Linked DNA regions of Homo sapiens: region 2 is linked to region 1. The links come from fine-mapping of genetic effects on gene expression. A gene starts in region 1. The other region holds a variant in brackets. All regions are shown on one strand. Distances are from middle to middle.

Region 1 (2,912 bases):
GGCAGAGGAGGAATTCAAACTCAGGAACCTAACTCCACAGCCTGCCGCACCCAATATTCCCACGTGGCCATCTAGGCCATTCATGTTAAGCCCACCGGCCAAAGACTGGATCCCCTAGAAACTGCAGAGCTTTCTCAGGGACCCTGGAGTTCATGCATACACCAGACATTGTCTGCAGACATTACAGTAATATGTGCCCACTTGGGTCCTGTGGTGAATTGAATGGTGACCCCCTCCCACCCCCCGCAAAGGATAACTTCACCTGGAATCTCAGAAGGTGACTGTATTTGTAATAGGGGTCTTTGCAAATGTAATGAAGGTAAAGATCTCAAGATGAGATCATCTTGGATTAGAATGTCCTTCTCAGAGACAGAAAGGAGGGGACATACAGAGACACAGCGAGGAAGGGCGTGTAAAAATGGAGGCAGGCAGAGGCTGGAACGATGCCGTTGCATGCCCAGGAATGCCACAGGCCATCCGAAGCTGGAAGCTGCTGGGAAGTATTCGCCCCTGGAGCCTTCGGAGGAAGCATGGCCCTGCCAACTCCTTGTTTCCAGGCTTCTGACCTCCAGAACTGTGAAAGAATAAACTTCTGTTGTTTCAAATCACCTGTTTGGTGGCCATTTGTTACAGAAGCTCTGGGAAACCGACACAAATGTCCACCATTCTTCTGTTTTTTTTTTTTTGTTTTTTTTTTTTTGATGGAGTTTCACTCTTGTTGCCCAGGCTGGAGTGCAGTGGCGCGATCTCGGCTCACCACAACCTCCGCCTCCTGGGTTCAAGCAATTCTCCTGCCTCAGCCTCCCGAGTAACTGGGATTACAGGCATGTGCCACCATGCCAGGCTAATTTTGTATTTTTAGTAAAGATGGGGTTTCTCCATGTTGGTTAGGCTGGTCTCGAACTCCTGATCTCAGGTGATCTACCTGCCTCGGCCTCTCAAAGTGCTGGAATTACATGTGTAAGCCACCATGCCTGGCCCAAATGTCCACCATTATTATTCTTCATAAGAAACATAGGCATTTCAAGCCATTACCAAACTTATAGTCACTATTTATCATTATCTATTTTTCTCCATCAATGGATATGCAACTATTACTATCATGAAAAGTAAATTATATTTGCAACCCCATTATCTTCTAGATGGAGAAACAGTTTGAGAGAGGGCAGTGGAGAAGCAAGAGAGCTGGTCTGGAACCCAGCTGCCTGACTCGTGAGTCATTTCTCTTCCTCCAAAGCCCTATTAAGTCTGGGGCTGCTTATGGTCCTCACCAACTACACAAAGAAAGTCAGGGTCATGCTCATCCATCAGGAGGTTCAGGGCCACTTCCCGCTTTCCTCTGTTTGGCAACACTAAGAGTCACCCTCTGATTGTTCCAGAAAAGCAAGAATTGCTAAAGGCCATTGTGTCAAGTTTGCCCAATTCATGCTGCTTGACATCTTACCCCTCCCCACCCTGCTCCCATCCCCCCCACCCAGTGCCCCTGATTGCAACACTCCTGGCTGGGGTGGGACAGGGTGGCCAGATAAAAGCAGAGCAGGACCTGGAAAGCTGGTTTGTATGGGCTGCAGCCTGCCGCTGAGCTGCATCATGGTGCGGTCTGTGGCCTGGGCAGGTGAGCCGTCGGATAGTGGGCTGGGTCTCGGGAGCTGTGGGGAGGTGGGGATGTGGATGTTCAGGGACCACTTGCTACCATTTGCAAGGAAGCAGGAGGACTCAGGAGAACTTCAGAGGGTCATTTTATCCCTCTCCATGCCTCCTGGCTTGCAGTCCCTTGATTACCTTTCCTGTGGGCTCCCCCTTAGGCTCTTTCAGCCCAAGAGACTTCATGTTGCAAGGGAAGGCTTTTCTCAACAGGCTGAAGATGACTTGACTTTCCTCTCTCTGTCCTGAAAGCCCAGAGTCAATGAGGCCCCTGCACTGGGTCTTTGTGTCTTTCCCATGTTCTTAGGTCCCTCCTGTTGGCCTTATCCAAGAAGCGCCCACTGCCAAGAACCTCTTCTCCAACCTCATATTGTCTGTCCTGCAAGAGGGCAGCCTGGGGCCAAGATCCTGGGCATCCTTGCAAATTTTCATGGAGGTTCTATTAGGTTGACAGAGAAGTCCAAGGTCACCAGGTGAAAGAGATCTCTTCGAAGGAGTCCTGTCAGACCCTAGGTCTCCAAGGCTGTGGTTGCCTACCACAGCCAGGTAGCGGAAAGGCAACAGGAAGCCATAAACGATGGGAGCAGAGGCACAGGCCCTCCCCAGGAGATGAACTCTCTCCATGCAGCCCTTCCAGATTGATTCTTTCTAGCCCCAAAACAGGCTTGTTTCTTGTTCCGAAAGAGAAACTATCTCTCTAAATAACTCACAAGTCAGCAGTTTTTCCACAATCTTCCTGAATCCACACTGCCCTTTACTGAGGTATAGAGAGGGGGCAGCCTCAGCCCATGGAACTTTCCATCAGCTTCTAGGACCAACCCAGGCCAGGAAGAGACCCCCGTGGTCTGGTCTGCATGAAGGGATGGGCACAGTGCCCTCCTGGGTCCCTTCTGAAAGGAGAAAGCTTGATTTGTATGAAATCAGCCCTCCCTGACCACCTCCTGTGCTTCCGTAAGCTGTGGGGCCTGGGAAGGTGAGAATGGCAGCATAACCCTGGCCTTCTCTCTTGTGTTGCTCCAGGTTTCATGGTCCTGCTGATGATCCCATGGGGTAAGTAGCCTCTTTCTTGGCTGCCTCAGCCCCTTCCCTGGGCTCTGCTTAATGTCCCAAAACACCTTCCCTGCCAGACCTCCCCAAGAGCTCCAGATTTCAGTGGGGACTCTCTTCCAAAGCTCAGACCCCTGCAAATGTCCCCATCTGCTACCAGCCCTCCCAGGAAGGCTCTTGCCTCCTTATCCATTAGCTGAGCTCCTGCACATCTGTGGGGC
Region 2 (2,912 bases), 21 kb after region 1:
AGCAGAATTCTCTTGTATCCCATCCTCACCATTACCATATCATACTTTATACCAGTTTGAGAGATGTAAAATGGTATCCCGTTAGAGTTTCAACTTGCATTGTCCTAATTACTCATTATAGTTTCAGCATCTTTTCCTATACCTATAAGCAATATGTGTTTGTCTTTTGTGAATAGTCCAATGTGTCTCTTGTCATTTTTCTATTGGGTTGTTTATATCTTTCTTACTGAAATGTAGGCGTTCTTTCCATGCTCCGAACACAAATCCACTCATGACTGCAGGTTTGGCTAAATCTTCTGGGTTGAGGCTTGGCTTTTCATTCTCCTTAGGTGCCTTTAATGTAGTCAGATTTACCAATCTTATTCTTTATGGTTTTTACTTTCTGTATCTTGAGAAATTTTTCTCTAGTCTGAAGTCAAGAGCTATTTTCCTATATTATCTTCTAAAAGTTTTGTAGCTTTTTTCCCACTTAAGCCTTTAGTCTTACTGAAATTGCCATTTAAATATGCTGTAAGGTTGTATCTAATTTTTTTTCTATACGGATAACTGGTTATTCAAGCACTATTTATTGAATAATCTATCCCTTTCATACTAACCTACAATACCATCCCTGAAACAAATTATGTTTCTGTACACACATGGGAATCTTTCTGTTCCATTGGTGTATTTTTCTTTTGCTGCCCCAATAACTCACTATCTTAATTACTAAAGCCTTATAATAAATCCTGATATTTATTACAGCAAATCTTTATACTGTGTTCTTTGTTTCAGAAATGTCTTGGATGTTCTTAGCTCTTACTTTTCCATGTATATGTTAGAATTATATTGCCAAATTCCATTAAAAATTCTGTCCAGGTTTTGATTATAATTGCACTGAATCTATAGATTGAGAAGAATTGGCATCTGTATGATATTAAGTCTCCTTATCTAAAAACATGGTATATCTGTTTAGTTGTCTTCTACTGCTTTTTTTAATGTTTTCTATTTATAATAGAGGCAGGGTCTCCCTATGTTGCCCAGGCTGGTCTCGAACTCCTGGCCTCAGCTTCCCAAAGTACTGGGATTACAAGTGTGAGCCACTGTGCCTGGCCCTAGTTGTCTTCTTAAATATATTTTGATAAAATTTTATAAATTTTTTCTTAAAGGTCTCATACATCTTTTATTAGATTTATTCCTAGGTATTTTAAATTTTTGATTACGGTTATAAATTTTATCCATGGTAAAAATTAAATTTTCTAACCAACTGTTGTTGGTGTATGGTAATGCCACTTTTGTATGTTGATGTTGTATCCAGCAACTTTTCTAACTCTCTGATTAAGTTTGATGATTATTGTTCTGCAAATTCTGCACAGCATTCTATGTAGGTAGTCATGTCATATCATCTGCAGAAATAAGTTTTGTTTCTTCCATTCTAAACCATATAACTTTTGTTTATTTGTCTTGCAAACTGCTCTAAGACATCCAGTACAGTGGTGAGTGTAAGCAGTGATAATGGACATTTTTGTCTTGTTCTTGGCCTGAAAGAGGATGCTTTCAATATTTCAGTGTTAAATATGCCATTTATTGTAGGTTTTGCATAGATGCCTTTAACAAGACTAAAGAAGTCCTTCTACTCCTAATTTGCCAGGAGTTTTTATGAGAATGGATGTAAGTTTTGTCATATGGTTTTCCATTTATAAATTTTTGCTTTTATTCTGGTAATAAATCATATTCATTTTCCCCTGTTAAATTCATCTTACATTTCTAGGATTGAGCCAGCTTGGTCATGCTATATTAATTTTTTTTTGTAATTTGCTGGATTAGTTTTTTTTTTT[C/TC]ACATTTTCACACATATGTTAGTGAGTAAGATGGACCTGCATGTTTTCTTTCTTACACTCTAGGAAGTCCTCACCACCTCCAGCTGTTGTCCAGGCCAATAATAAACTGATCTGGGGTATCAAGATTCTGGGATATCAAGCTGGGAAGGTCCCCTCATTCTATTTTTTGATAGATGTGTTAAAAGGACTTATCTGCTCCTTGAACATTTGGTAGCAGTCACCAGTAAAGCCATCAGCTCGATGCTTTTTTTAAGGATAATTTTTAACCACTGATTTAGTGTCTTTGTTGGCTACAGGGCTATTGCATTTTCTATTTTCCCTCTAGTAGGTAGAAAGCTGAAACTCTCTGTCCCTTCTTAGGCCAAGATCCTCCTCTTTCTCCCCAAATGGTACTGAGGGTGGTAGGAAGTGGCATTAGAGCTTGCTTTTGTCTTACTCAGAACTCAGCATCTCTGTTTCCTGTGCAAGAGCCCTTATTTGACATAAAATCAAGGTAGTGGCTAGTGCTCTCTCCCTCCCATCTGTCCCTCTTAAGTGTCCCTGGAGAGGGATAGAGCAGATGCCATAAACCTGTGGTTTTCCCAGAAGTCGCTGAGTGACACCAGATTGTTGAAAGTGCCACGAATAATTAAGAACCTTCTGGGGAGGTTGTTCATCTTGAGGCACTGCCCTCACTTCTCTCACTGAAGGAATCCACAGATTCCCCCAGGGATCTCCAGAGGATCCAGGCTCAATAAACCTGCTCCCTCCATTCTTCCCTCCTTCTTTCTTCTCCCCTGGCTCCATGTCCCCTCCCACAGGTACAGCCTTTCCCTACATTGTGTTAAAGCAAACTAACTACGGCCTGAGAAGGACTCCATACTTCCATATTTGGGTCCTTGTGGATGAACTGTAACCTAGCTTAATAGTCAGACAAAATTGAAAACCTAACTTAGTAGTGTGCACCTGTAACAATAGCTGAGTGTTGGCCAATCCCAGCAGCCATACTTCAATTACTGATATGCTGCTGAATGTTCAAACTACATTCAAATAAGGCAAACGCCAAGTTGTAACCAATCTCCCGGTTTCTGTGCTTCCCTTCCAATTCCTGTACTTCAC

What was found. PIP is the estimated chance that this variant, and not a neighbour inherited with it, causes the effect. A credible set is the group of variants that fine-mapping cannot tell apart.
Region 2: its variant is the best candidate, but not a certain one, in a credible set for the expression of CHIT1 in whole blood (INTERVAL, PIP 0.84).

Annotation. Positions count from the first base shown.
Region 1 is chr1:203,228,315-203,231,226 of GRCh38, reverse strand. CHIT1 (chitinase 1) reads left to right here and starts at 1,554. Exons shown (of 11, transcript NM_003465.3): 1 at 1,554-1,615; 2 at 2,665-2,694. The coding sequence starts at 1,591.
Region 2 is chr1:203,207,389-203,210,300 of GRCh38, reverse strand. No RefSeq gene overlaps it. Among named protein-coding and RNA genes, the nearest start is that of CHIT1, 21 kb to the left of the region's middle. The variant C/TC (reference allele first, on the strand shown) is at 1,815.